2 separate regions of the Homo sapiens genome follow, and region 1 is linked to region 2. The links come from fine-mapping of genetic effects on gene expression. A gene starts in region 2. The other region holds a variant in brackets. All regions are shown on one strand. Distances are from middle to middle.

Evidence for each region.
Region 1: its variant is fine-mapped to the expression of F2R in blood mononuclear cells (TOPMed, PIP above 0.99).

What each region holds. Positions count from the first base shown.
Region 1 is chr5:76,736,468-76,741,842 of GRCh38, forward strand. No RefSeq gene overlaps it. Among named protein-coding and RNA genes, the nearest start is that of F2R, 23 kb to the left of the region's middle. RefSeq lists enhancers at 2,453-2,782, 2,883-2,952, 5,086-5,165. The variant G/A (reference allele first, on the strand shown) is at 2,775.
Region 2 is chr5:76,713,379-76,718,753 of GRCh38, forward strand. F2R (coagulation factor II thrombin receptor) reads left to right here and starts at 2,748. Exons shown (of 2, transcript NM_001992.5): 1 at 2,748-3,017. The coding sequence starts at 2,930. RefSeq lists a silencer at 2,554-2,803 and enhancers at 4,597-5,097, 5,098-5,375.

The sequences.
Region 1 (5,375 bases), 23 kb after region 2:
TCAATGAAAAAATTATTTCAACTAAACAAGGATTTTGTTAACATACAGAATTTTTATAAGTTAACACACAAGCTTTTTAAGTTTCTAAGGCCTGGACTTTTCACGTGTGTTTCAAGGAATAGATTGAGTTCAAAAAACCTTAAATTTTGCTAACACAAAAATTTTTTTTGTCCAGGCATGGTGGCTCACGCCTATAATGCCAACACTTTGGGAGACTGAGGCCAGAGGATCATTTCAGACCAGGAGGTTGAGACCAGCCTGAGCAACATAGTGAGACGCCATCTCAATTAAAAAATAAATAAATAATTAACCTGGCACGATGGCATGCCTGTGGTCCCAGCTACTCAGGAGGCTGAGGTGGGAGGATCGTCTGAGCCCAAGAGGTTGAGGCTGCAGCGAGCCATGATTGCACCACTGCAGTCCAGCCTGGGCAACAGAGTGAGACCATGTATCCAAAAAAAAAAAATGTTTTTTCCACCAAGCTAAAAATAGCATTTTTAAGGAAATGGAATGCTTGGCTATTGAATATACACTTGGAAAATTTTAGGTTATACTTCTGAATTTAAGAAATTTTAAAAACTGTTTGCCGTTGGCATGTCTTTGAGGAAGTTGAGCTACAGAAGCAAGTGGAAAAGGTTAAGCAGCATTGATGACCAAGCTATTTAAGTTTCTGGGGCCTGGACCATCCATTAGCAGCTTATCTTCAGCCAGGTGCTGTCGTGAAAATTAAGGGGAAAAACAGTTCACCAATGGTAATTTCCTGGCATAATTAGCCTGTTATGTGGCTATGCCTTTTGAAACTACTAGACCAAATGTGTGTGAAGAGTAATTGACCACAGGATAAACCTAATTGTGTTTTGTGAAGGAGGTGTGGTTAAGTGAGCTGCAATGTGAGAAGAGAGGAGAAATTCTCTAATGCAATTATTCTCAGAGTTCCTGAGACTCTCAGGAGATCTGCAAGGTCAAACTCTCTTCAAATACCAAGATATTATTTGCCTTTTTTGGTCTGTTTCTCTCATAAGTGGACAGATGAGTTTTCCAGAAGCTACACAACATGTGAAAGTGCAACAGATTGAATGCAGAAGCAGAGACGAAAATCTGACTGTCTCCTATTACACCAGTCATTAAAGAGATTGCAAAAATGTAAAACAATGCAACTCTCCTCCTTAAATTATTGTTTTGGGAAAAAATTTTGAAAAATATAGTATTTATTTTAACATGTAATGGGCTTATTGTCATTTTTAGCTGAAATAGATATTTTCAAAAGTTCTCCATTTTAATGTCTAATATGGAAAATATCAGTAGATAAAATCATTGGCAGCAGGGTGCAGTAGCTCACACCTGTAATACCAACACTTTGGGAGGCCAAGCCAGGCGGATCACGAGGCCAGGAGTTCGAGACCAGCCTGGGCAACATAGGTAAACCCCATCTCTACTAAAAATAAAAAACTTAGCTGGGTGTGGTGGTGCACATCTGTAATCCCAGCTACTTGGGAGGCTGAGGCACGAGAATCACTTGAGCCTGGGAGGCGAGGGTTACAGTGAGTCAAGATGGCATCACTGCACTCCAGCCTGGACGACAGAGCAGAGCAAGGCTGTCTCAAAAAATGAAAAAGAAAAAAAGTCAGTGATGTGCTGCTAAGCAGGATCTCCACAAAAAGAAAAAAAGCCTGATCTGGCAAACTAGCATTTGCCAATTTTGATGGTGTGAATACTCCCTTCTTTTCCAGTTTCAAGCTCCCAACTGTTTAACAGTTGGCTTGACAAATTTCCTGAATATTGAATTCTTGTGAGCAGGTACAAGTTGACTCCAGCACACCAATGGATGCAACCCACATAAACAAAGGCTCTTTGCTGGTCCTCAATAATTTTAAGTGTATTAAGGTGTTCTGAGCAAAAGAAGTTTGAAAACCACTGCCCTTATCCAAGATGTCCCAACTTTATTGACTTGAAGAAAACAGATAAACTGGTAATTATTATAAAAGCATAAAAGCAAACAGGGGTAAAGAGTTGGCTTAGAGCTGCAGGCACCACTCTGGGTTTCTGGCTGTTTCAGAGCTGAGGGGTTCCAAGTCTTGGAGCAAGAAACTGATTCAACATCCAGGCTCAGTGGCTCACGCCTATTATCCCAGCACTTTGGAAGGCTAAGGCGGATGAATGGTTTGAGCCCAGGAGTTCGAGACCAGCCTAGGCAAAATGGCAAAACCCCGTCTCTACGAAAAATACAAAAATTAGCCGAGCGTGATGGCTCATGCCTGTAGTTCCAGCTACTTGGGAGGCTAAGGTGGGAGGATGGCTTGAGCCTGGGAGGCGGAGGTTGCAATGAGCCAAGATGGTGCCACTACACTTCAGCCTGGGTGACAGAGTGAGACCCTGTCACAAAAAGAAAAGAAAAGATACTGATTCACGTCATCAGGTATGGTGTGGTCCACAGAACAGGAAGCTCTGTGTGAGGTCTGATTTTCAGCCACCTGCTGTGTAAAGGAAAGAGAGAGGTGCTTGCTGAGCAAAGTTTCAGACCAGAAGACCAAGAGACAATTCAGAACAGCAGCAGATTCTACCCATGGTGGCATTCCTGTAAAGTGAAACTCAAGCGCCAAGTTTGTTGTCATGGGGACTGTTGATTGCATGCTAGTCTTATGGAAACACACGGAAAACCAGAGGTCAAATTCAGTAGCATCTCAGAATTCAGATAACACAGCATGTACAGTTTCAACCCAGCAGGCTGTGTGTTTATCACTTCAGGAAATGACTCATAAGCAGTAAGGAGATGA[G/A]CTTTGAAAGCTGCATCTGGCCAGGGCACGGTGGCTCACCGCTGTAATCCCAGCACTTTAGTGAGGCCGAGGCGGGTGGATCACCTGAGGTCGGGAGTTTGAGACCAGCCTGGCCAACATGTGAAACCCTGTCTCTACTAAAAATACAAAAATTAGCCAGATGTGGTGGCACACACCTGTAATCCCAGCTACTCAGGAGGCTGAGGCAGGAGAATTGCTTGAACCCAGGAGGCAGAGGTTGCAGTGAGCCGAGATTGTGCCATCCAGCCTGGATGACAAGAGCGAAACTCCATCTCAAAAAAAAAAAAAAGAAAAGAAAGCTGCATCTATAGTAGCCTGCATGGTGGCAGGGCCAGTCTGGCTGTTTTGCCTATCTTAATGACTACATCTGCAGGTCATTTTGGTGTGCTGCTATGCGACCCATCCAAGGAAGTGAAAACACCACGAAGGGTGGGCTGTCCAATACTGAGATGCATTCGTGAGCAAAACCATAATCATTTGATATCTATTTTTGTTGTTTTGTTTCCTATCCTGGGATATCTAGTTGCTCTTGAAACTAGCTGACACATATTTTAAAAAAAACAAGACAAATAATATATTCCCATCCTCCAGAAGCTAACTGGCTTTGGGATTTAATCCTAATACTTAATGTTTAGTTAGGAAGCACAAAATTTGAAGACCTCAGATTTAGAATTTTATCAGCTCTGCCTTGTAACAAGTTTTAGAAACTAAATCAGTTGGCCAGGCCTGGTGGCTCATGCCTGTAATCCTAGCTTTTTGGGAAGCCAAGGCGGGCGGATCACCTGAGGTCAGCAGTTCGAGACCAGGCTGGCCAACATGGTGAAACCCTGTCTCTACTAAAAATACAAAAATTAGTCAGACATGGTGGCACGTGCCTGTAATCCAGCTACCCGGGTGGCTGAGGCAGGAGAATTGCTGGAACCCGGGAGGCAGACGCTGCACTGAGCCGAGATGGCACCACTGCACTCCAGCCTGGGCAACAGAACGAGACTCTGTCTCAAAAAAAAAAAAAAAAGAAAAGAAAGAAAGAAAAGAAAAGAAACTAAATCAGTTCTCAACTCTGGTTGCGCATAGAATCACTGGAGAGCTTCTAAACAATTCCAGTGCCAATCTCTGGGGGCGAGGCCTGGACATTGATATTGTTTTCAAGCTCCTCAGAAGATTCTGATGTGTAAACCAGGGTTGATACTAAGAAAAGAAAAATCCCTCAGCAGTCTGAGCTATGTGAGGTGTGCAAAATTTATTAGGCCCAGAGAGACGGGAGTAGAGGACTTCAGTCACACCCCCGGCACATACCCTCCCCCTACCCACCACCCCCCATGCCTGTGGGCAATTATTTAAAGTCATTTTGTTCCTGGTGGTGTGGTAGCTCATGCCTGTCATCCCAACACTTTGGGAGGCCGAGGCGAGAGGATCCCTTGAGGTCAGGAGTTTGAGACCAGACTGGTCAACATGGTGGAACCCCTACACTCCTAAAAATACAAAAATTAGCCAGGCATGGCAGCATGCTCATGAAATCCCAGCTACTCGGGGGGCTGAGGCAGGAGAATTGTTTGAACCCAGGAGGCCAGAAGGTAGAGGTTGCAGTGAGTCAAGATGGCGCCACTCCAGCCTGGGCAACGGAGAGAGACTCCATCTCAAAAAAAAAAAAGGCATTTTGTTCCTGACTAGCTACATTCCCTGTTATCTTCATGTTCCTGGAATCTGTGATACAAAGAACAATGTGTATCCAATCAACAGCTTATGTTATTTTAATGTAAATTTTGATAAACAACTTAGGAACTGCCTCTTTTCCTTTATAAACATTCACATGCAACTGCTGCTAATCAGATTGTATATTCAGGACAACTTGAATATACACTTCAATATACACTGGGTTGCAGTCCTCAAGCTTGGCCCAAATAAACTCTCTACTTATATTAATTTTGACTCAGCTTCTTCCTTTTAGATCAACAATACCACTGTTTTTGAAAAGTGCTTCTTAGCTTATATACTGCTGGTGGGAATGTAAAGTATTAGTTCAGCCATTGTGGAAAGCAGTGTGGTGATTTCTCAAATAATTTAAAACAGAATTATCATTCAACCCAGCAGTCCCATTATTGGGTATATACCCAAAGGAATAGAAATCATTCTACCATAAAGACATCTGCGCACAGGTGTTCACTGCAGCACTATTCACAATAGCAAAGCTATGGAATCAACCTAAATGCCCACCAATGATAGACTGGATAAAGAAAATGTGGTACATATACCCCATGGAATACGATGCAGCCGTAAAAAAGAACAAGATCACGTTCTTTGCAGCAACATGGATAGAGCTGGAGGCCATTATCCTAAGCCAACTAATGCAGAAACAGAAAACCAAATACCACATGTTCTCACTTATAAGTGAAACTAAACATTGAGTACACATGGACACAAAGAGGAGAACAACAGATACCAGGGCCTACTTGAGGGTGGAGGATGAGAGGGAGAGGACTGAAAAACCACCTATCGAGTACTATGCTTACTACCAGGGTGATGAAATAATCTGTACACCAAACCCCCAAGACACACAATTTACTTATATAACAAACCTGC
Region 2 (5,375 bases):
CTGACCTCAAGTGATTTGACCGCCTCAGTTTCTCAAAGTGCTGGGATTACAGGTGTGAGCCACTGCACCCAGCCTTCATTGTACGTCTTTTTGTCACTAGAGGTACATTTTGTTCTAACAACTAAGACCCCAAAGCATCCTTTTAAGCTTTATCGTTTTGTAAAATGGTTAAAAATAACATTTTCCACCAATGACACAGATAAAATTTTAAAATGTGGTGGTATTATTCCATTCTTATTTTAAGGATATACATATATGCAATTTGTATGTGGATATGATTTTTTGAATGGTGAACAGAAACTTAGTGGTCAGGTAGCTGGATGCGGTGGCTCATGCCTGTAATCCCAGCACTTTGGGAGGCTAAGGCGGGTGGATCACCTGAGTTCAGGAGTTTGAGGCCAACCTGGCCAATATGGTGAAACCCAGTCTCTACTAAAAATACAAAAAATTAGCCAGGCGCGGTGGTAGGCGCCTGTAATCCCAAGTACTCGGGAGGCTGAGGCAGGAGAATCGCTTGAACCCAGGAGACGGAGGTTGCTGTGAGCCGAGTCCGCGCCATTGCACTCCAGCCTGGGCAACAAGAGTGAAACTCCGCCTCAGGAAAAAAAAGAAAGAAAGAAAATAAGAAAGACAGAGAGAGAGAGAGAGGAAGGAAGGAAGAGAGGAAGGAAGGAAGGAAGAGAGGGAGGGAGGAAGGAAGGAAGGAAGGAAGGAAGGAAGGAAGGAAGGAAGGAGGGGAAACTTAGTGGTCAGATGGCAACTAGGGGAGGGGAGGCAGAAGGTAATTTATTTTTCATTTCATATCCTTCAACTATCAGAAATTTTGTCATATGTGTTTATATTTTCCACTGTGTTTCATTGATTCTAAAATGCCTTTTCTTCATAACCCTGAAATTGGAGTGTTTCTTACAATCATTGGTATGTCACATTTTTTTCTGGCTTGTGGTAATGGGTTAAAATGATAAATTGTAAAATCAATGACGTCTTAGGAATAATGAAAAATAGTTTAATAGTGAATGAAGAACTATGTAATTTTAACTGTTCACATTTACTCTTGGGTATGTTTCCAGAGGATAACTGAACGGGGATAGATTTTAAAAAGCTTTATTTAACTGGGTACTTCCGCAATTTAGTGATCAACTTCTGTGTACAACAAGGTACTGTCCTTTGAGGATGATGGGAGAATACAGGGAAGAACGAAATCGCCTCTGATCGTACTTTCTCCACGGATGTAAGTGTCCGGGCTCTAGTGGGGGAATGATACTCTTCGTGCGAAATTCACTTTTAAAAAAGGCTTAGAAAACTGACCACCGGCTCTCAGCTGCAGCTTATCAACCACAGAACTCCGAATATGCCCGCACATCAGTGCGCTGGGTTAAGAGGAGAAGGGGCTGCGGCTGAGCTTTCCTAGAAACAGCTATTTGGGGACCCATTTCCTGTTGGAGTCTGAAAGGCGCACGCACCAGAGCCAGTGGCAAAGCAACTTAAGCTGCAGGCTCCTCCTGCCCACCCCCAGCCGCGACGCCCCTGGGGGCCCTTAGCAGACTGCCAAGCGAGTGTCCCCGCCCTGTGCCTTGAATTTAGCCAAACTCCTTTAATATCAGGCCTGGCGCGGTGATTCACGCCTGTAATCCCCGCACTTTAGGAGGCTGAGGCAGGAGGATCGCTTGAGGCCAGCAGTGAAATTAGCCGGACATGGTGGCGCGCGCCTTTCTGTGGTCCCAGGTAATCCGGAGGCTGGGGCGAAAGGGTGGCCTGAGCCAGGGAGATCGAGGCTGCAGTGAGCCGTGTTGGCGCCACTGCACTCCAGCCTGGGCGACAGGGCAAGACCCTGCCTCAAAAACAAAACAAACTGTAATATCGTTCAAGAACGTGTGAAGGACACTTGGAAAGTTACCAGGCCATTTCTCTCCTGGGCGCCCGCGGCCCTAGAACGCCGGCCTCACCGGCAGACGCGCGCCCTCCTCCCAGATGCGCAGGTGACCCCGGCGGGCGGCGCGGGAAAGGGAAGAGCTCCGCGAGGCCGCGCGGGGGGGAAGCGGGAGAAGCCGCTCTTCCTATTCCACTCGCAGTCTGCGTGTGGGGGAAACGAGTGCCCGGCGTATGAAACGCCTAACTTCGCGAAATAAAGAGAGACGTATAAAAGTTCAAGAATTCTGTCCAGACTCAAGGGCCCTTTCTCATTTAGGGGCAACCCTGTCACTACATCATAAACTTTTAAATCCGTGATCCCCACGTTACAAAAGCAGAAGTCCCTTTTAGACTTTTAGCGAAAACTGAACTTTGCCGGTGTCCCACACGGAGGGAGGGAGGACGGGAGGCCACGCCAGGGCTGCGGGGCTGCAGGGCGTGGACGCATCCTGGCCGGGGCGTCCACTGTCGACGTCTCCACATCCCAGGAGGGTCGAGACGGCCGCGGGAAGCAGCCTGCGAGCCGTGCGGCCCCATTCCAAGGACCCCGCCAGTGTGAGTCACTGACAGCTTCGCGAATCAACGGTGCCCAGAGGAAAAAACTTCTCATTTGGACTTCTAGGCCCGGCAGTGGCCGGCGGCCAGGGCCCCCCAGTAGGGCAGGGCGGGGCGGGGCGGGGCGCACAGAGCCAGAGGGGCTTGCGAGCGGCGGCTGAGGGACCGCGGGGAGGGGGCGCCGAGCGGCTCCAGCGCAGAGACTCTCACTGCACGCCGGAGGGCGCCCTTCCTCGCTCGCGCCCGCGCGACCGCGCGCCCCAGTCCCGCCCCGCCCCGCTAACCGCCCCAGACACAGCGCTCGCCGAGGGTCGCTTGGACCCTGATCTTACCCGTGGGCACCCTGCGCTCTGCCTGCCGCGAAGACCGGCTCCCCGACCCGCAGAAGTCAGGAGAGAGGGTGAAGCGGAGCAGCCCGAGGCGGGGCAGCCTCCCGGAGCAGCGCCGCGCAGAGCCCGGGACAATGGGGCCGCGGCGGCTGCTGCTGGTGGCCGCCTGCTTCAGTCTGTGCGGCCCGCTGTTGTCTGCCCGCACCCGGGCCCGCAGGCCAGGTGAGAGATGCACGGGAATGGGGTGCGCGGGCGGAGGGACGCCGAGGGGAGACTGCGGGGGTCACTGTTGCGCCTTCTCCTCACCCCTGCCTCAGTTTCCTCCGAAAGCCAAACTGGCATTTGGGCTGAGATCTGGAGTTTTTTCCAGTCACGTTTAGGTGGGGCGTGCCACCCCCTTCGCGGGCCCAGCCGATGCCCCTTTGGACTCGATCTTGGAGGGTGCAGCCCGCCTGCCACGGGGTGTTGGATATGGAGGAGGATGGAGCGGAAGCCCCCTGGGGGAGCCTGCAGTCCTGCGTTGCACTTGTCATTGTGTTTCTCCCAGGACCACCCCCAAAAAGAAAAGCTCTCACGTTGCTCCACCAATAAACGTTTCGATCTTTAAAATATAAAGTGGCGAACCGCTGCCGCTGAAGTTTTGCTTTGTTGGAAGTTTTTTTCTTGCACATTTTACAGGCGAGAAAAGTGATGTAGAGAAAAGCCCAGGCAGTCCCTTGGCATGTTTAGCAGAGAATCAGTACCAGCAGCCCCCGGCCCGGCCTTGTGTCCAGGAGGTGCGCAGGGTGCGAGATATATGGTGACAATAGCAGAGGCTCCGCGTGGTGGCGGGGGAGGGGACATGGAGAGGATTTTGTTGTTACCTAGAACCCATTCCTTCTAAGTGAGTTGAAGAGAGAGATCCCTCCCCAGGACCGGGCTCCCTCGAACACTGTGGGATCCCAGTATTTCTTAACGAGATTTCTGATCCACTGCAAGAAGGTTGCTCCCCTAGAATATTTTCCCCACTAGTAGTCTATTTTTAAGTATCTGGCCACTTGACCAAATAAATAAATTTGATTAATTTATTTGGTCAAATATTTTCTGTATCCCTTTCCCCAAGAGCAGCACAGATGAGTTGTTTTTAGCCTGTAAAGGCGCTAATTAGAAAGTGAGAAAAGTGTTTTTGAATTTCCTAATAACAATAGTATTTTATAAGCTTTGAGCCATTTTTTTTACGCTGAAAGAAGTTCTAGCGGGTTTTCTTGTTATCGCTAAAAGAATGTGCACTCTATATTGCTCCCACACTCAAAAAAAAGTGTAGACACATCAAGATTAAGAGGTGACAAAGACATAGCATGTTCTCGCCTCTCTGTCTTTGTTCAGGGTGAGTTTTGAGATGCTTTTGGGAAAACTAAGAGCTCCAGACTGGGGCCCAGTGTTTAGCAGTAACTAGCCTGCCTGCAGATAAGTGAGCATTGTTGCCGAAAGTGTTTGAGAGAACACCGAGAACTCCTGAAAAATTGTTTGCGATGAGATATGATTTCACATACCATTATGTAATTTGCACAATGTAGTTTGAGGACACGCTCTTGAGAATCCAGTGTTTTGTTTGAGATTTGGATCATGGGGTGGAGAACAGAGCTTATAGAAATGCTGCACCCTTTCTCACAGTGGCCTCCCAGCAAGGTGTGTAGCCTCATTAGGGAGTGAAGTCAAAGCGTACTGGTTTCTGCCAAGCTTCTTACATCCTCATGGCAGGAGTGGTGCATGTTAATATGGACAGTGCTGGTGTAGACAGAAAGGCAGGTGGATGAACTTGGCTAGTTTATCAACACTGGATTCTGGAACCACTTTGGGAGGGAAAGAAGAAAGGAGTATGATAGAGGAAAAGGAGCGCTTGCTAAGTGCCATATTCCATGTCAAGCCCTGGGCCAGAAGGAATTTTCACTTGGATTGTCTCATTTCACCTTGTCAAAACACCTTGTTAAGGTGGGTATTTATCCCCTTTTGCTGATTCTGCAACTAAGACCCAGAGACAGCGGCTAAGCAAGTGGTGGCGGGTGGGGCAGGGAAGGGGCAGTCCACCCACCCTGGGTGCAAGCAATTAGGAATAAGTGGGGCTTTGTCTTTAGAAAATTTAAAATCACTAATAAAATCAACCCAAGATAGGTTTACTTTCTATTACCACCATGCATTGACAATTCTAAGCATTGTCTGTCATAAGGTAGTGGTGCTGGGACTCTGAGGCATCCAACAGTGCCTCCCATCCTTGAACCGCCACCGCTGTGATAGAGTTTATTGTCCAGGATTACCAGCTCTGTGTGCCAAGAGGGGCGGTGAAGCCCTCCCAGGGCTGGCCCTGACCACCAAGCTGAGCCTTCCTCCAGCACTTCCCGACTTTTTGTTCCCACTCATTTTGGCATTTCCTGCCTTGTCACTTTGTGTGTGTGTCTCATTCTCCCAACTAAGATTATAAAGTTTTATTTATCCCCATGGTGACTAAAACAAATGTTCACTCAGCAGATAGTTGTTGAGAAATGTGTAAATTCATCAACCAGTTTACATTCGTCTAGACAATTTAAGTGAGATGATATGTGA